2 separate regions of the Homo sapiens genome follow, and region 1 is linked to region 2. The links come from fine-mapping of genetic effects on gene expression. A gene starts in region 2. The other region holds a variant in brackets. All regions are shown on one strand. Distances are between the middles of the regions.

Region 1 (9,729 bases), 22 kb before region 2:
CCAGATGCAGGATCTAATGTGGTTCCAAAGCTCAAGGCTGAGGCTGGCTGGTGGATTATAGTTCAAGTTGGGAGATCTGCAGGCAGGAATTATGGAGGCCAGTGTTTGGGGCAAGGAGAAGGGTCTGCAGACTTCAGGGGCCTCAGGACCCAGCTACTGGCCATCTTCAGTCCCTTGGGCTCCTCTGCCAGGCCGTTGGCTGCTCCATAACATTGCCCTGCAACTGCCACAGAACCCTAGCCTCCAAGAGACCCAAAGCTCAGGGCTCTCATCCCCTGGGTGCCAAGCCACACCCAGCACAGTCTCTTCTGGAGCTCAGACTTAGCATCTTTCTTGGAGCGAATAATAGGAAAAATGGGGGGTAAAGGAAGAAATGGAGCACTCAGTCATTTGTGGGTCAGGAGCACAATCACCACACACACACCACAGTCAGCAGAATGCCTTTCCTGATACATATACACACATATCTACACATGCACATGTACACACACAGATTTTCTGAGACACATACTCTGAATTCTTCTGGAAGAGAAGAACTGGCTTGAGAGGGCACAGGAAGCATCCAGGAATGGAAACTAGTATTTCCCAGACTCAAAAGACAGGACCAGTCATTGCTGCAGAAACAAGCAGGGTGACTACTGGTCTCTTGGGTCCAGATCACCATTTTCTTTGGCTGATTGGCTTCCTGCTCATTCCTGTTCCCAATTTTATCCTACGACTTTATCTCCAATGAGGCCCTTTTTCAACTGCCATGACCTAGATTTGTCTTCCTTGGCCCTGAGCATAGCAGGAATACTCATTGGCCATAGGCTCAGCCAGCTCAGTACCCATTGGCTGCTCTGCACTAAGCCTCTGTCTCCATTGGCCACACATTCAAGGCATCCTCATTCATTCTTATTGCTGTGGGTTCAGGCGGCCGTTTTCATTGGCTGCTCTGTCCTGAAGCTCGATCTCTATGGTTGCCACGAGAGGTAGTATCTCCACTGACAGTGAATCCAATGGATGAATGGGCTTTGTTCTCTCCGTGCCACACTGGTAGGTGTCTCCCAACATGTGCCCCCTCCTCAGCCTGCATTAGGGTGGGGGGGCATTGGGGGTGCCTGAAGAAGATCCAACAGCCTCGAGAAGCCTCTGGTTCTGGCGAAGGTGCCTCCTCCTTTCGTGTTCCCCTGTGACTTCACACACCAGCTGGGCAGGGAAGGCCCCAGGAAGCCCCTTCAGCCAACCTGGGGGAAGAGAGACAGAGGCTCCAATGAGGTGGGGGCAGGGAGCAGGTGAGGAGGCAAAGGGGGCCTCGTGGGGTCTCAGGCCTTCAGGGTCATTGTAGGTGTGGGAATTCATGGACAAGCCTGGAGCATCGGTAGAAAGGGCATCAGAAGTGGAGGTGACAGCAGCTCGGAGAGAGTCTGGGCTGCTCTTCCGTCAAGCCCTGCAGTGGCTGCTCATGTCTCTTGGAGTAAGAGGTGGAGTCCTTGCAGAGACCTGTCAGGTCCTGCGTGATCCCATCCCTGCCACTTCTATGACCTCATTTGCTTCTCCCCCTTTCTCTCTCCTGCTAGTCACACTGGCCTCCTTACAGTTCCTCAGTCACACACCAGCCGCAGGGCCTTTGCACTGCCTGCTGCCTCCAGCTGGGACACTCTTCCCCCAGACACCATGGGCCTAAATTAGCTCCATCAAGCTTCATGTTGCCTTCTCAGTGAGGTCCACCTCGGCCTCCCTATTGAAAATTTCAGTCTGCCCAACCCTGGAACTCCTGACCTTCTTTGCTCTGCTCACTTTTTTTTTTTTCCATAACACTCATAACCTTCACATGTACTTTATAATTTACTTATCTATTTTGCTCATTCTTTATCGTCTGCCTCCTCTGCTAGAACGTAGCTCCAGCAAGGAAGGAAGTGTGATATATTTGATTCACAGTCCCTAGAACAGCGAGTGGCACTTTGTAGGTGCTTAATAAATATTTATTGAATGAATAAATGAAACACGGCCAGGCGCAGTGGCTCACGCCTGTAATCCCAGCACTTTGGGAGCCTGAGGCAGGAGGATCACTTGAGCTCGGGAGTTCAAGACCAGCCTGAGCAACATAGTGAGACCCCCCACCTCCATTAAAAAAAAAAAAGAATAGAAATAAGGCCTGGCACCAGAGGCTCATGCCTGTAATCCCAGCACTTTGGGAGGTGAAAGGGGACGGATCACCTGAGGTTAGTTCGAGACCAGCCTGGCCAACATGGTGAAACCCCATCTCTACTAAAAATACAAAAATTAGCCAGACGTGGTGGTGGGCACCTGTAATCTCAGCTACTTGGGAGGTTGAGGCAGGAGAATCCCTTGAACCCAGGAGGCAGAGGTTGCAGTGAGCCGAGCTCACACCACTGCACTCTAGCCTGGCTGACAGAATGAGACTCTGTCTCAAAAAATAATAATAATAAATACAAAATAAATAAATGAAAGACTTTCTCACCTTCAGGGGTCTTGTGCAGGTGTTTGGGGGCAGCCCTGGACTCCAGACTCCGTCCTTCAGTCTTGGCAGGTGCAGACGACTCTGAACACAGTTCCTGGGAACAGTCTGGTTGGGGGTGGGTGACATTAAAGTGATTCTGTTTAGCTTCTCCCCCATATTCCTCTAAGACTCGCTTTTTCTTCCCTCATCCCCTCTAGGGGGATACTCACCACAGTCCTCATAGATGGTGTCTGGGGAGCAGGGAAGGGGGCCTGGGGTTGGGAAGGCTCCCAGCCAGCGCTGCATGTCTGATCTGGTGGGGATATTGGGAAGTGTCACAGTTGGCCCAAAAGATCCTCTGGGGCTGAGGCAGGAGCCACAGAAGAGAGAGACTGGGGAAGTGGGGGAGGTCTGAGAGGTCAGATAAGTGTCCCAAGGTTGTTTTCTGAGGGAAACACAACTCACAGGGAAGAAGCTTGGAGTAGTCGGTGGGTGGGGCGGCCCTGGTGGTTGCTGAGAAGGGAGAGGCGGAAGGTAGGGGGTCCAGATGGATCCGGAACCTGCTGGGCCTGGACCAGGGAGCGATGGGCATAGTCCAGAACCTGTAACCGCTGCCCACTGCCCAGGGATGAGGTCGTTCAGAAGGACAGCAGGGGTCCCGCTGGACCCCTCCTGCCCACTCCAGCCTGGGCTCCTTCCTTCCCTAGGACTCACCTCTTAGGCTGAGTGATGAGCAGCAGGTCGCTAAAGAGCAGCAGGCAAAGAGGGGTGAAGCGGGGGCGCGAGGCAAAGAGCACGCCCCCCCTCCGGCACCCTAACTCAGTCAGCTCTCCCTGGAATTCCAGGCGCCGTGACCAGGAGACCAGGGGCAGGGCCTGCGAGGAAGCGGAGGCAGAGGAGGTTCTAGCGTGGCAGCAGCAACATGGGGCAGGGCAAGATGGGGAGCCTGGGCAGCGATGTACCTTGACTTTGTGGAAGCGCAGCCTTTGGGTGAGCCGGATCAGCTCTTCAGTCTGCTTCATGCGCCCCACCTCAGCGCTGCAACGCTCGATGATCTAGGTAAGGGGAGCTGTGTCACCACCCCAGCGGCCAGCCCCCTGCTCCCTACCATTTCTCTCTACCACCTTGTCACCTCCCCCTGCTTCAGCTTCCCCACTGCCCACCTTGCTGACAGCACCCAGGGCCTTCTGGGCATTCTCCTGACGGCTGGACCCCTCTTCTGTCTGGCGCAGGATATTCTGGGGACAAGGAGGAAGGGTGACTGGGCCCCCTGCTCTGTGGCCCTGGGATTCAGAGGGGCCACAGCTCAGAGGACCCTGTCTGTTTCAGCCAGTTTCAACAAGGCTGACAGACCTCATCACTCACCATCTGCAGAACCCTGAGCAAGTCCTGTTACCTCTCTGAGCCTCAGCTTCCCTATCTGTAAAATGGGGCTAATACCCACCTAGCATATCAATAGCATTGTTTTGAGGATTCAAGAAGGCAATATATGTAAAGTGCTTAGCATAGTTCTTGGCACATATTAAATGTTGAAAAGAAGGTTCTTATTTTTTTTTCTTCCGGAGTCTGGCTCTGTCACCCAGGCTGGAGTGCAGGGGTGCGATCTCGGCTCACTGCAACCTCTGCCTCCCGGGTTCAAGTGATTCTCCTGCCTCAGCCTCCCAAGTAGCTGGGATTACAGACGTGTGCCACCACGCCCGACTAATTTTTTTGTATTTTTAGTAGAAGCGGGGTTTCACCATGTTGGCCAGGCTGGTCTTGAACTCCTGACCTCAGATGATCCACCCGCCTCGGCCTCCCAAAGTGCTGGGATTACAGGCATGAGCCACCGTGCCTGCCCCGAAGGTTCCTATTATTTTAATAATTATTAACCAAAACTGTTAGTGCAGGCAATATAGCAGAGTAGCTAAGAGTGCTTAGATTACAATTTTGTCTCCATCAATTATTTCTGTATGACCTGAGGCAAGTTATGTGACCTGTGCCTTAGCTTTCTCATGTCTAAAGTAGGACAAGTAATAGTTCCTACCCTCACATAGTTGCAGGTAAGGTTACACAGGTGTATAGCACTTAGAACCATTCCTAGAAAGCTTAATAGCTGTTGAGCTATTTTGATTAGTATCATTATTATTATTTTGTTGTCTACAATGGGGATAGATAAAGCTGAATAAGATCATAAAGACACTGATAATCTAGTTGGGAACTCTTCACATAAAGATCCCCTCATTCACTGGGCTCAGTAGCTCACACCTATAATGCTAGAGCTTTGAGAAGCTGAGATAGGAGGATTGCTTGAGGCCGGGAGTTCAAGACCAGCCTGGCCAACATAGTGAGACCCTGTCTCTATAAAAATAAAAATTAATAAATAGCCGGGCATGGTGGCATTGTAGTCCCAGCTACTCTAGAGGCTGAGGCACAAGGATCCCTTGAGCCCAGGAATTTGAGGCTGCAGTGAGCCGTGATCGTGCCAGTGCTCTAAAGATCCCCATATTGGGAGACCTGGTTAGAAAGGA[C/G]TCTCTGCTTTGCTATAGAAGAGAGTGTCTTAGGCCGGGTGCAGTGGCTCACGCCTGTAATGCCAGCACTTTGGGTGACTGAGGCAGGTGGACTACATGAGGTCAGGAGTTCGATAGCAGCCTGGCCAACATGGTGAAACCCCATCTCTACTAATAATACAAAAATTAGCCAGGCATGGTAGTCCACACCTGTAATCCCAGCTACTCAGGAGGCTGAGGCAGGAGAATCGCTTGAACCCGGGAGGCAGAGGTTGCAGTGAGCCGATATTGCGCCACTGTACTCCAGCCTGGGAGTGAGACTCCGTCTCGAAGAAGGAGATGGAGAAGAGGAGGAGGAGGAGGAAGAAAGTGTCTCAAATCTCAAACTTTTTTTTCCCCCGTATCACCCCACTAAGTTGCCTTTTTAAGATAATTTTCCCTAAACATCTCCCTCACCATGAAAGTTTAATTCTACAGATCTACTGGAACTCTGTTTATGCACTAAAGCTTAATGGAGTACAACTGTTGGAATAACTAAGATTATTTTCACCCCCAAAGAACCAATTTTTGCCCCCTTGGGGGTGATACCACCCCAGCTGGGAAGGCATGTGGGTAGAAGAATATAGCCAGAGACAACCTCAAAAACCGCTCACACACTCCCCCTGAGACCCAGCGAGCAGAAGGGACTTGCCTAAGGTCACTCAGAGAGTCAGTGGCAGAGCTAGGTGTGGAACTCATGTCTCCAGCCAGAGGGCCTTTCCCTGCACCTGGACCTAGAGGCAGTCCAGGTAAGGGGAAGAGCACAGGGCCCCTAAGGTAGGACTTGGTGAGTCCTAGGCTGAGAGACCCAGATTCGGAGTTATGATTTGGGGGATTTTATGTTTAAGGTGGAGTAGTGCATGGTGATAGCTGGAGGGCCAAGAAGCCCTCGGGAGAGTTCTCCGATGGGGTTGGTGGGGCAGAAACGGCCGCAGCTGGGACAGGTACCTGCAGCAGCATGCGCAGCCGGGTGATGCGCTGGAAGGGCAGTAGCAGGAAGGACGGCAGCGGGAGCCGCTCACACTTAGGGAGGCTCTGCAGCCGGCGCAGCTCGGCGGAGAAGCGCACGTTGGTGTCCCTGCAGAAGCAGGCATGGCTAGCGGCTGCCTGGAGGCCCTGGTGCCCCAACCTGCTGTGGCCTCGGTCCCATCCCTCTCCCCAGCTTCCTCCCCACCCCTGGGACACTCACATGAGGCGGCTGTAGGTCTCCTCCTGATACTGCTGGTTCCGCACATAATCCACATACACCGAGAAAGGCCCCACAGCGTGGGCATGCACCACATCACACAAGTCGCTGATGTGGGGGGAAGAGCGCACACGGGACAGGAGCGTTGCTAGAAACCTGAAGGAATTGGGGAAGCAAGCAATGGGGCGGGGCAGAGAGCCAGGTCTCCCGGGTTCTTGAGAGAAGGTTTGGGAACTAACTGGGTCCGTAGAAGGAAGGACCTGGGCCCGGGAGAGAGGAAAGGGCGTGCCCAGCAGCCTAAGGGCAGGTTCCCTGGAAGGACGGAAAGCCACTGACCGCTCGCTGACTCCCTGGACTCGCTGCACATTGGAGAAGAGTGTGTGGTGATCACGGGGGGTGAGCGTGTCCCGGAGTGCCTGGCTCAGCACGAAGGTGTCGGTCAGCAGCCGCAGGGAGCGCAGGTAGGAAGCCTCGGACGTCACCACCTCGAAAAGACTCTAGAAAGAAAAGCAGGCAGTCGTGGGAAGCCCAGTTCACCGTGGGAAGCTAGGACCCTGGGCCCTCCTCCCCTATGCCTGACCCATGCAGCCCAACCCCAGCACCCCCCTCCCATCTCCCACCTCCAGCTCCCACCTCCTGCATGCGCCTCTCCTGGGGGCTGAGGGTATCCAGAAGACCGCTGGCTTGCACAGCCGGAAGCTCCTGCCACAGGGTGTTGCGAGGTCCAGGGGGTCGTGGGAAGGTGGGTGCATCTCCAGCATTTGCTGGAGAAGGACTCCCATCCTCACCCACCCCCCACAGCTCCTCTGACAGCACGGCTGCTCGGTAGGTCTGGTACAGAGGTTCTAGAGGGCAAACATAGCACTTCAGGGAAGCCCAGGGCTCCCAAACCCTTCCCCACTGCTTGATGGTCACAGCAGGGACCCTCAGGTCCAGAGGCCCTCACCATCCTGCAGGGGCAGCTCCCAATTCTGCTCCTTCAGCACCTCTAGCCCCTCCTCTTCCCTGTGGAGAAAGAAAGGGAAGGAAGTCCCCAGGGCCACCACTGCTGCCCACCGTAGGGGTGCTTGTTCTCATGCTGGACAGGGCAACCCATGTGCAGGTTGGATGTAGGGACCCTGACGGCTCCCCAAATCAAACCTCAGGCTTTTTTTTTTTTTTTTTTTTTGAAGGGGAAAGGCAAGGTCTCGTTATGTTGCCCAGGCTGGTCTTAAACTCCTGGTCTCAAGCAATCCTGCCACCTTGGCCTCACAAAGTGTCAGGATTACAGGCGTAACCTACTTTGCCCGGCCCAAATTCCAGATCTTTTTATGTGCCTTTTAGAGAGGAGCCCCTGAACTAAGTGGGCCCCATTCTTATGTCAACTATTGCAGACCAGAGATTTCTGAGTCTCCTTGTCAGCCGTCTCACGTAGCAACCATTGTCTGGAACGCCCTATTTGTGTGTCAAGGAAGCTCAACGTGATGGACTGCAAACTCTCACACCTCCCACCAGCACCTGCAGCCCCTTATCTCCCCTGCTGTGGTCATCAGCACCACCACACCCCCATTCGCCCAAGCTAAAAACCACACTAGTAAATGTTTGTTGAATAAATGAATGGACACAGATAACTTCTGATAACAATGGTGAATCTAAGATAATTAACAATCCTGGATAGCATAGAAGAGATGGTCATGATTGCCAAATAGATTTTCGGACAATAATTGCAATAGAAGCTCAAGGTGAGGGAAGGGAGTTAAAATGGTGCACTCACTTACTCTGGACCCGGCTCTTCACAATATCATATCCCCACGATTCCATGAGGTGGTTCCTATGCTTAGCCCCATTTCACAGATGAGGACACTGAGACCCAGGAAGGCTACAGATTTTTTTTTTTTTTGAGATGGAGTTTCTCTCTTGTCGACCAGGCTGGAGTGCAGTGGCACGCTCTTGGCTCCCTGCAACCTCCATCTCCCTGGGTCCAAGCCATTCTCCTGCCTCAGCCTCCCGAGTAGCTGGGATTACAGGCACCCGTCACCATGCCCGGCTAATTTTTGTATTTTTAGTAGAGACAGGGTTTCACCACGTTAGCCAGGCTGATCTTGAACTCCTGACTTCAGGTGATCCTTCTGCCGCGGCCTCCCAGAGTGCTGGGATTACAGATGTAAGCCACCGTGCCCGGCCTTCTATAAGATCACAGAATTGATAAGGGCCAGAGCTGGGATTCGAAACAAGGGCTGCTTATCTCTAGAGCCCTGGCCCTTGTCCCCTCACCTTTGTGGAGGTGGGATTTAGCTGGAGCTGAAGGTTAGTCTGCCCTCAGGTAGAAGCATGGTGGGGAGAGAACCAGGGAGTAGGGGTGGGGGTGTTCAGTACCTCCCCTCCACAGTTGCTGGAGGAGTATTCTGAGGAGCTTCATCAGGACTGTCCCCTGGAGAGAGAAGCCAGAGTGAAGAGAAAAAAAAACTCCAGGATCCCCAGCCAGGACTCCCGACTCCAGCCCCAGCAGGGATGGTTACTATAAAAACTGCAACTCTCTTCAGCACCAGAGCAGCAGCTGGTGGGGAAGCAAAGAGCCCAGTGCCTGTTGGGGATTGTAGTTTGCTGGGCTTTAGTTCCCCCCTGCCTCTCTCCTGTCCCCTCACAGCCCAGAGGTCCACTCCCCCAGGCCCTGCACCTGTTTGGATTCCATCTTCAGAAAGCAGATCAAGATCTGGCTGTGGGGGGTCCCCGAAAATGGTGGCATCCTGCCTGACACGAGTTGGTTTGGGAGGCTTGAGGAGTGGCAGGAGTTTGCGCTCAGCAGTGGAGCGGTAGGATGTGAGGACAACGGCAGGGTGACCGATGCTTGGAGGGTGGGGGCGGGAGCGAGAGGTCCGCAGCGGGGAGGCCCGACGGGGGACCCTGGGGACCTCCTCATAGCCCCCCACAGGCACCCATCTGAGCTCCAGGCCAGGCCGGGTGGTGTGGCAGACACAGGGGCAGCAGGGAGGGCAGGCCAGGCCAGCATCTGTGGGAGACAGGTAGCCTAAGGAGAAAGCCCTTGGGGCCCAGCTCCACCCCCGCCCAGACCATCTCCATCTTTAACCTGCCCAGCAACTGCAATATCAAGGTCCAGGCATCTATAGATCTCCTCCACCCTGACTCCCTTCAAATCCCGACATACAGAAACCAGATATCCCAAACATTAACTCCATTTTTGAAAAGGTAGCCCCTGAAAGTTGTTAGCACTGAAAACGGAGAAGATGGGTGGATTGAGGTCACCCAGCGCCCCCCACCCGCCACACTCACCTGGAGCACCGTTCTCCTGGGACCCACTCCCGGTGAGGGGAGCTTCTCTCTCCCCATTCACATCTGCTCTCGCTTGGAGACCTGGCTCCGGGGCATCTGCATCCTGAGCCCGGCCTTCAGCACCCCCTTCAAACCTGCCAGCCAGCCTCCGCACAGTGCCAGGAGCTGAGGCAGAGCCATTCTGAGCCAGGACTCCAGCCATGGGGAGCAGAGGCGTGCAGGGTGACCCAGACGGCTTGGGTGGGGGGACTGGAGACCGGGGAGCAGGTTCTGGGGAGGCGGAGCGCCGGGACACTGGACTA
Region 2 (10,148 bases):
GGATGAGAAGAAACCAAACCCAGACCTCACATAATTTACAAAAATTAACTCAAAATGGATCATAGACCTAAATGTAAAAAGTAAAACTATAAAGCTTCTAGAAGAAAACATAAAAGAAAATCTAGGTGACCTTGGGCCTAATTATACATTTTTGGGTTTTTTTTGTTTGTTTGTTTTGTTGTTGTTGTTGTTGTTGTTTTTTGAGACGGAGTCTAGCTCTGTTGCCCAGCTGGAGTGCAGTGGTGCGATCTCGGCTCGCTGCAAACTCCGCCTCCTGGGTTGAAGTGATTCTCCTGCTTCAGCCTCCCGAGTAGCTGGGATTACAGGTGCCCGCCACCACACCCAGCTAATTTTTGTATTTTTAGTAGAAATGGGGTTTCACCAGGTTGACCAGGCTGGTCTCGAACTCCTGGCCTTAGGTGATCCACCCACCTCGGCCTCCCAAAGTGCTGGGATTACAAGCATGAGCCACTGCATCCGGCCTCAATTTTTTTTTTTTTTTTTGAGACAGAGTCTCACTCTGTCGCCCAGGCTGGAGTGCAGTGACGCGATCTCGGCTCACTGCAAGCTCCGCCTCCTGGGTTCATGCCATTTTCCTGCCTCAGCCTCCCTAGTAGCTGGGACTACAGGCACCTGCCACCACGCCTGGCTAATTTTTTGTATTTTTAGTAGAGATGGGGTTTCATTGTGTTAGCCAGGATGGTCTCGACCTCATGACCTGGTGATCCGCCCTCCTCGGCCTCCCAAAGTGCTGAGATTACAGGCATGAGCCACCACACCCGGCCAATTTTTGTATTTTTTTTTTTTAGTAGAGATGAGGGTTCACCATGTTGGGCAGGATGGTCTCGATCTCTCGACCTCATGATCCGCTGACCTCAGCCTCCCAAAGTGCTGGGATTACAGGCCTGAGCCACCATGCCCAGCCCTGATATATATATATATAGATAGATAGATAGATAGATAGATAGATAGATAGATAGATAGATAGATGTAATTTTGAGACAGAGTTTAACTCTTGTTGCCCAGGCTGGAGTGCAATGGCGCAATCTCCTGCTCACTGCAACCTCCACTTCCGGGGTTCAAGTGATTCTCCTGCCTCAGCCTCCCGAGTAGCTGGGATTACAGGCATGCGCCACCACCCCCAGCTAATTTTGTATTTTTTTTAGTAGAGAAGAAGTTTCCCCATGTTGGTCAGGCTGGTTTCACACCCCCAACCTCAGGTGATCTGCCTGCCTTGGCCTCCCAAAGTGCTGGGATTACAGGTGTGAGCCACCACGCCCAGACTCCTGATATTTTTTTTATTTTATTTTTTTTGACTCCTGATATTTTTAATTAAAAAAAAAATTAGGAGGTCAGGGAACCCAATATGGAAGGCAGATTGTGGCAAAAGAATTTAATGATACTACTAATGTATGAAATAACTTTTCTGAAGGGAGCTGGGGGAAAGGTGCTGACCTGAGTAATTTTGGAAATGAGTCGAGTCTGTAAGATCAAAGGCAAATGGAACTACACATAAGCACTGTACCCTAGTTTATAAGATTGTTCTCCACAGGGGTATGTGTTAACAATTCTCTTTTGAGACATTATGATTACAAATAAAGAAATATTTTATTTTATTTTATTGAAACGGAATCTTGCTCTGTAACCTAGGCTGGAGTGCAACGACGCGATCTTGGCTCACAGCAACCTCCGCCTCCCAGGTTCAAGTAATTCTCGTGCCTCAGCCTCCCAAGTAGCTGGGACTACAGGTGCGTGCCACCACGCCCAGCTAATTTCTGTATTTTTAGTAGAGACGGGGTTTTGCCATGCTGCCCAGGATCGTCTTGAACTCCTGACCTCAGGTGATCCACCTGCCTCAGCCTCCCGAACTGCTGGGATTACAGGCATGAGCTACTGTGCCTGGCACATATAAAGAAAAATTTTAGGCTGGGTGTGGTGGCTCACCCCTGTAATCCTAGCACTTTGGGAGGCCGAGGCAGGTGGATCACCTGAGGTCGGGAGTTCGCAAACCAGCCTGACCAACATGGAGAAACCCTGTTTCTACTAAAAATACAAAATTAGCCAGGCGTGGTGGCGCATGCCTGTAATCTCAGCTACTTGGGAGGCTGAAGCAGGAGAATCGCTTGAACCCGGGAGGCAGAGGTTGCAGTATGCCAAGATCATGCCATTGTGCTCCAGCCTGGGCGACAACAGCAAAACTCCATCTCAAAAAAAAAAAGAAAGAAAGAAGAAAAAGTTTAGGCCGGGTGCAGTGGCTCATGCCTGTAATACCAGCACTTTGGGAGGCCAAGGCGGGAGGATCACCTGAGGTCAGGAGTTCGAGACCAGCCTGGCTAACATGGTGAAACCCTGTTTCTACTAAAAATACAAAAACAAATTAGCCAGGTGTGGTGGTTCGTGCTTGTAATTCCAGCTACTCAGGAGGCTGAGGCAGGAGAATCGCTTGAACCTGAGAGGTGAAGGTTGCAGTGAACTGAGATTGCAACATTGCACTCTAGCATGGGCAACAAGAACAAAACTCCGTCTCAAATAATAATAATAATAATAATAATAAAGAATTTAAAAAGAAAAACAAAACAATTCTGATACTCCTATACACGTGTCCTGGAATAAACAATTAAGTAAATAGATGGCAAATTATGGAAGCCAGGTTTCTCACAGTTGGGGTGGGAGTTTAGATAAACAAGGGAGGTGGCTAGAATGATCCATGTAGTAATGGATTAAAGTTGGAGACATCAGTATGAATTCATGCTTAGCTTAATATAGATATGGATGGTTATATATGGAAATACATGTTTGTGTATATACGTGGGTTAGTATACACACATATATTTCCTTGCTTTCTCAGATGTGAGGGTCCAGAAGCAATGATACCTCAAAAGCAACAAGCACACCTAGGGCCCAGATCTTGGATTCTAAAACCATTTGCCAATAAAAGAAAATAGGGGTCCTTGGAGAAATGGCTGATTGCAGGACTGTGGCAGGAAATACACAAAATGAGCCTGGAGCATTTTATAGTACCAGAAAGTAAGGTGACACTAAATAAAAACAAGGTTTTAATTAAAATACCAATGATGACAACAACACTGATGGGACTCTTATTTTTCTCCCTGGTTGAGGATTGACCGCCATCATGAATGACTTAGTAACTATCTGAACTAGGAAGTTCATGATCAACTGACTACATACTTCAGGAGGAACAAATGGTTATTGAGGTCCTTCACCCTGGGAAGACAACAGTACCTAAGACAGAAATTCAGGAAAAACTAGCCAAAATGTATGAGACTACACTAGATGTCATCATCTTTGTTTGTTTTTGTTTGTCTTTATGAGATGGAGTCTCCGTCTGTCACCCAGGCTGGAGTGTAGTGGCGCAATCTCGGCTCACTGCAACCTCTGCCTCCTGGGTTCAAGTGATTCTCCTGCCTCAGCCTCCCGAGTAGCTGGGATTACAGGTGCCTGCCACCACACCCGGCTAATTTTTGTAGTTTTAGCAGAGACAGGGTTTCACAATGTTGGCCAGGCTGGTCTCAAACTCCTGACCTCATGTGATCTGCCTGCCTCTGCCTCCCAAAGTGCTGGGATTACAGGCGTGAGCCACCACGCCTGGCCTCATCTTTGTATTTGGATTCAGAACTCATTTTGGTGGTGGCAAGACAACTGGCTTTGGCATGATTTATGATTCACTGGATTATGCAAAGAAAAATAAACCCAAATGCTGACTTCCAAGACATGGCCTGGATGAGAAGAAAAGAACTCAAGAAAGCAATGAAAGGAACACAAGACCAGAATGAAGAAAGGGGGACTGCAAAGGACAGTGTTGGTGTGGCAAAAAGCCAAAGGAGTAAAGATGCTACAGTAACATCTGTGGCCACTGTGGATTTTTCACAAGATTTATAAACTAAAAACTTTTGTGTGCAAAAAAAAATGGATGGGGGTATGCTAAAGAGACACAGGAGCCAACGGAAACAGCTCTCAAAGGCCAAAGCTAGAACGAAATTAGCTAGAAAATAAATATGAAGTATATTGGATTATAACCCAAAGTATAAATGTCCATGAGTCCATACTGATTAAATAAATGGTTGAATAAATAATGGAGGAGTAGAGACAAATATCTCATATGAAAGAACTCCAGGCCAGGGATGGTGGCTCACGCCTGTAATCCCAGCACTTTGGGAGGCTGAGGCGGGTGGATCACGAGGTCAGGAGATCGAGACCATCCTGGCTAACACGGTGGTCTCTATTAAAAATACAAAAAATAAGCCGGGCGTGGTGGCGGGCACCTGTAGTCCCAGCTACTTGGGAGGCTGAGGCAGGAGAATGGCGTGAACCCGGGAGGCGGAGCTCTCAGTGAGCTAAGATCGCGCCACTGCACTCCAGCCTGGGCGACAGAGCGAGACTCCGTCTCAAAAAAAATAAAAAATAAAAATAAAGAGCCTAAGGACTAAGGATTTAATTAACCAAGCACCAACCCGTGCAGCCTCAGGAGACTGGTCCCGCAGCGCAAGTGTGTCCCTCTACCCCCCGCAAGCCGGGCCGCGTCTTCCTGGCTCTCCTGGCGCCGGCACCGAGCAGGGCGTGGACCTGAACTTATGTGACCCCACCCGGTCACAACCCGGGGTAGGAAGCTAAAGCCGTCCGCCCACCCGAGGGGCGGTCCCAGCACCCCAGTGGGGGACTGCTGCGCTCGGCCTCTGTGTTCGATCGGGAACCCAGGTCTCTTCCCTGCCAATAACAAAACCGCCGCGTCCCGGGCCTCCCTTCCGGAGCCGGAGTCGGCGGCCGAGCGCTGGTGGCGGAGCCTGGACAGTTAATTCCAACCGCCTCCGGGTGATTCCGGGGACAGGAGCGCCGAGAGCTCCTCCCTTTGGCCGCGGAGCCGGCTCGGCGCTGATTGGCTGAGGGCCTCGGTTGTGGCTCTTGAAGGCTCCCCATTGGCCCCGCGCTCCAGTGGCAGGAGTGTGGCGGCCCGGCCTCCGCAGGCTACCCGGGGTTGAAGCTACTGCGAGCTCCGGTGGCTGCCTGGGGACGCTCAGGGACGCTCATTCCTGGCCAGAGTCCTGACTTCTTTCTCGGATCGAGATCTCGTTGCTGGCTCGAGGAAATCACCGGCTCTTCTCCCGGATCCTTTTCTTCTCTCACTTGCTGGCTTTCTTCTTCCTGCCTCCCTGGCTTCCATCTCCCAACCCCGCGATTCCCTCCTCTACTCCCGTGCTCCCGTCGCCCGCCATCCTGAGCCATCCCACCTGCAACCTTCTGTCTTTTGCCCCTCCTTGACCTCAGAGGGTCCTGCCTTAAGCTTCTCACCAGAATCTCCTAGATTTCTATCTCTTCCCTGCTTGCCAGCTCTTGACTCCCAAATTCCAGCTGACGTTTGACCACTTGACATTTGACCCTGACACCCTTGACTGCAAATCTAAATTCTTATCTTCTGCAACCTGTACTGCTGAAACAGGCCTTCCCCCTGTCTTCCAACCCCGCTTTCTGACACCCATTTTTACTTTCTTACTCTTGGGTCAGTTCCTGCTACAGCTATCCCACCATGGACTTCTTGATGAGTGGCCTGGCAGCCTGCGGGGCCTGTGTATTCACCAATCCCCTGGAGGTGGTGAAGACCAGGATGCAGTTGCAAGGAGAACTGCAGGCCCCTGGCACATACCAGCGGCACTACCGAAATGTCTTCCATGCCTTCATCACCATCGGCAAGGTGGATGGCCTTGCTGCCCTGCAGAAAGGCCTGGCCCCCGCCCTCTTGTACCAGTTCCTGATGAATGGCATCCGACTGGGCACCTATGGGCTGGCTGAGGCTGGGGGCTACCTGCACACAGCCGAAGGCACCCACAGTCCTGCCCGCAGCGCAGCAGCTGGGGCCATGGCTGGGGTCATGGGAGCCTACTTGGGGAGCCCCATCTACATGGTAAGAAGAGGGCTCTTGCCTGGGACCTTCAGGGCAGATCCTCGTTGTAGGATAGGAGCTGTTCTTTCCCAAGGGCATAGGTGGCAGAGTGCTGCCCCACTGCAAGCAGGGAAAGGCATCAGGAAAGTGCTGGTAGGCTTCGGAGTCTTCTGATCTGCCCTATACACACCCATCTGATGGACACGATTGAATGTATTGATTAAGATTATGGGCTTTGGGGCCGGGTGCAGTGGTTCACACCTGTAATCCCAGCACTTTGGGAGGCCAAGGCGGGCGGATCACGAGGTCAGGAGATGGAGACCATCCTGGCTAACACAGTGAAACCCCGTCTCTACTAAAAATACAAAAAATTAGCCGGGTGCGGTGGTGGGCGCCTGTAGTCCCAGCTACTCGGGAGGCTGAGGCAGGAGAATGGCATGAACCCGGGAGGCGGAGCTTGCAGTGAGCCGAGATCCGGTCACTGCACTCCAGCCTGGGCCACAGAGCAAGGCTACGTCTCACAAAAAAAAAAAAAAAAGATTATGGGCTTTGGAATCAGACTTTCTGGAACTAAAATCCTGGCTTTGAAAATTACTAGTTGTTGGCCGGGCGCGGTGGCTCACGCCAGTAATCCCAGCACTTTGGGAGGCCGAGGCGGGCGGATCACGAGGTCAGGAGATGGAGACCATCCTGGCTAACACGGTGAAACCCCGTCTCTACTAAAAATACAAAAAATTAGCCGGGCGTGGTGGTGGGCGCCTGTAGTCCCAGCTACTCCGGAGGCTGAGGCAGGAGAATGGCCTAAACCCAGGAGGCGGAGCTTGCAGTGAGCTGAGATCCGGCCACTGCACTCCAGCCTGGGCCAGAGAGAGAGACTCCGTCTCAAAAAAAAAAAAAAAAAGAAAAGAAAGAAAATTACTAGTTGTTGAGCTTCAGTTGCCACATCTGTAAAATGGTGATAATTATAGTGCCCTTTCTGTGTGATTATTGGGAGGATCGAGGGAGACAAATGCGGTAGACATGAAAGCATTAGTGCGAATCCTGGCAGACAGTAAGCATTTGGTAGCATTTGTTTTTATTATTATGTGTTGATATTGAGGTTGGATTTGTGAAGGGGAGGATAAGGAATTTAACATACGTCAGAGAGTCTAGGGATCAGGAAGGCCCTGGGCATCACAGAATTAACAATCTCAACATCTGCCCCTTTGAGTTATCTGGTATAGGTGAAGGGTCAAGAGCCTGAGGCCCAGAAAGGGGAAGTGACCCACTCAAGGTCACACAGCTGTTTATTGCTAGGACTAGGCCCTGCTTAGTGCTCCCAAGAGCAAAAGAGACGGGGAAGTAGTATGTCCTGTAGCAGAGGCAGTCTGGTCTCATTTCAAGGTGTGAGTTTCAGGGACAGTGGTCTCCCCAAAGTCAGCTCGATACCTCTGTGGGGGTTGGGGGCTAGAGAGCAAGTTTTGCCCAGAGTCTGATGGGGAGCCTGATAGAAGTGGTGGCTGGAGATCCAGTCTGGGAATGGGAGCTAGCATGAGAGGCGGGACACCAGGTCTTGCCTAACATGAACAGCCTTAGGAAATATTGCCATTCTCCAACCACTCCACCCCCGACTGCTAGCCCCAAGGGAAAGAGGATATGAAGGGGTTGGGGTGTCTTGCAGTGCTGGGAGATCCACCCCCCTGGGGCTGGAGCCTAGAGACAGAGTCTTTTTGTTAACCAGTTTGTTAAGTAGGAAGAACAATAATCAGAGTAAGAGGCTATTCATTGCTGAACACCCTAGAGGAAGTGTGAGGGGGTGAGACATTTGGTTCTCAGGTAGGAGGATGGCCACTGGGGCACAGGCTATGATATTCTCTTGTTCCCAGGTGAAGACACACCTGCAGGCACAGGCAGCCTCAGAAATTGCTGTAGGGCACCAGTATAAGCATCAGGTGAGGGTTCCCAAGTCTGCCAAAGTCCCTGACCATCCTTTCTCTTTTCCCCTAGCTTTCTGCCTGCACCCAACAGATCCAATCCCAGCCACTGCTCTGCTCAACCCATCGGTTCTGTCCCATTTTGCCCCTGGAGTCTACCCAGACCCTCTTTACTCTTTTTTTAGATGGAGTCTCGCTCTGTTGCCCAGGCTGAAGTGCATTGGCACGATCTCGGCTCACTGCAACCTCCGCTTCCCGGGTTCAAGTGATTCTCCTGCCTCAGCCTCCCGAGTAGCTTGGGACTACAGGCGTGCACCACCACACCCAGCTAAATTTTTTTTGTTTTGTTTTGTTTTGTTGAGACAGAGTCTTGCTCTGTTGCCCAGGCTGGAGTGCAGTGGCGCAGTCTTGGCTCACTGCAACCTCCACCTCCCGGGTTCAAGTGATTCTCCTGCTGCAACCTCTTGAGTAGCTGGGATTACAGCCATGCGCCACCACGTCCAGCTAATTTTTGTAATTTTAGTAGAGATGGGGTTTCACCATGTTGGTCAGGCTGGTCTCGAACTCCTGAACTTGTGATCCGCCCGCCTCGGCCTCCCAAAGTGCTGGGATTACAGGCATGAGCCACTGCACCCGGCAATTTTTGTATTTTTAATAGAGATGGGGTTTCACCATGTTGGCCAAGCTGGTCTCAAACTCCTGACCTCAGGTGATCCACCCGCCTGGGCCTCCCAAAGTGCTAGGATTACAGGCGTGAGCCACCGTGCCTGATGCCTCTTTCCAATATGTACTCCAGTTCCTCTAATTTTCTGCCCCTGTTTCTCCTGACCAGTGAATGGCCTCACTTGCATACATCCCGCCCCAGTTCTTGGGTGCCCAGGGAAGGAACAATGGGGTGGCTAGACAACCAAGGGCCCACATTCTGGCTCTAAGCCCACATTGAACTGGTTGTCTGGACAAGAGATTCCTATTAAGGACCCATCCTTGGCAGTGTTAGGATGGCAGCCCCTGATGCTGGGCTGTCTGAACCCCACCCCCGGTCTTCCCCACACTAGGGCATGTTTCAGGCGCTAACCGAGATTGGCCAGAAACATGGTCTGGTGGGGTTATGGCGTGGGGCTCTGGGCGGCCTGCCCCGAGTTATCGTCGGTTCCTCCACCCAGCTGTGCACCTTCTCATCCACCAAGGACCTCCTGAGCCAGTGGGAGGTACTGCCTGGGAAATGGGTGGGTCTGTTTCGGGAAGGGGGGAAGGGGAGGGCAAGCTGCACTAGGCCCTGGAGGGGATGGTGCCCAACATTCACAGGTGAGGGAGTGGCAGGAGGGCTTGGAGGTCAACTCTTTAGACCCTTCCCACAGTTCTCTTGTCACTTCCTCCCAGAAGGGGTACCTGAGCCTTCAGGGTACCCTGGCCTTCCTCCTTCTCACTGTTTTTGCACTGTTATAACTGGTGCAGTGGAAGCTCCCCCAGTTACCAGCATCTGTGTCCCCAGGGCAGGGACTGTCCTGTCCTTGGGGTGTAATAGTTGGCTGGTTGACAACGCTCTTCCTCTCTACCCCCTTAGATCTTTCCTCCCCAGAGCTGGAAGTTGGCGCTGGTGGCTGCCATGATGAGTGGCATTGCAGTTGTCTTGGCCATGGCACCCTTTGATGTGGCCTGCACAAGGCTCTACAACCAGCCCACAGATGCACAGGGCAAGGTAAGGAAGTGCTCTGGGATGCAGGCGGGAAGCAGGGGATGGGGAAGGCAGATTGCGGGTGCAGGTGGGATAGCCTGAAATGCAGCCTGTAGAGGTGCTGCCCCTGGTGGGCTCTGACAAACTCCTTCTCTGTGCTCTCCCTCCCTCTCTGACACACTCTCAGGGCCTCATGTACCGGGGGATACTGGACGCTCTGCTGCAGACAGCTCGGACCGAGGGCATTTTTGGCATGTACAAGGGTATAGGTGCCTCCTACTTCCGCCTCGGCCCCCACACCATCCTCTCCCTCTTCTTCTGGGACCAGCTGCGCTCCCTCTACTACACAGACACTAAATAACAGCCGCTTTCCCAGTCTCCACCAAATGAGCACTCCTTGGCCACTTGTGCCTCCACCACTATGTCCTGGTGACTACTGATTAGGTGACCTTTCATCCATCCATGGGGGACAGCCAACCCCACTCCCCATCTGTTCTCAGGGTTGAATCACTACAAGAGATGAGTTTCCCTTCTTTCCTTGGGTGTTGCTTTAAACCTTCCCTACCCATTCCCTGGGTAACTCACACCCCTCTCTCAGGGCTGAACGAGTCATCCCAAAGTGTATTTCCTCCCACTCACCACTGCCACCCTTGAGTCCCTCCTG

The links. PIP is the estimated chance that this variant, and not a neighbour inherited with it, causes the effect. A credible set is the group of variants that fine-mapping cannot tell apart.
Region 1: its variant is the best candidate, but not a certain one, in a credible set for the expression of SLC25A35 in visceral fat (GTEx, PIP 0.68).

The regions. Positions count from the first base shown.
Region 1 is chr17:8,312,339-8,322,067 of GRCh38, reverse strand. It overlaps ARHGEF15 (Rho guanine nucleotide exchange factor 15), which reads right to left. Exons shown (of 16, transcript NM_173728.4): 2 at 9,428-9,729; 3 at 8,814-9,146; 4 at 8,513-8,567; 5 at 7,104-7,162; 6 at 6,791-7,002; 7 at 6,494-6,654; 8 at 6,161-6,313; 9 at 5,920-6,049; 10 at 3,607-3,681; 11 at 3,406-3,498; 12 at 3,158-3,318; 13 at 2,909-3,061; 14 at 2,674-2,756; 15 at 2,465-2,569; 1 more. The coding sequence ends at 1,075. Among named protein-coding and RNA genes, the nearest start is that of ARHGEF15, 7.0 kb to the right of the region's middle. RefSeq lists an enhancer at 8,458-8,959. The variant C/G (reference allele first, on the strand shown) is at 4,954.
Region 2 is chr17:8,290,202-8,300,349 of GRCh38, reverse strand. SLC25A35 (solute carrier family 25 member 35) reads left to right here and starts at 4,950. Exons shown (of 5, transcript NM_001320870.2): 1 at 4,950-5,917; 2 at 7,762-7,827; 3 at 8,865-9,017; 4 at 9,374-9,508; 5 at 9,672-10,148. The coding sequence starts at 5,543. The coding sequence ends at 9,845. RefSeq lists enhancers at 4,331-4,460, 5,081-5,130, 5,151-5,230.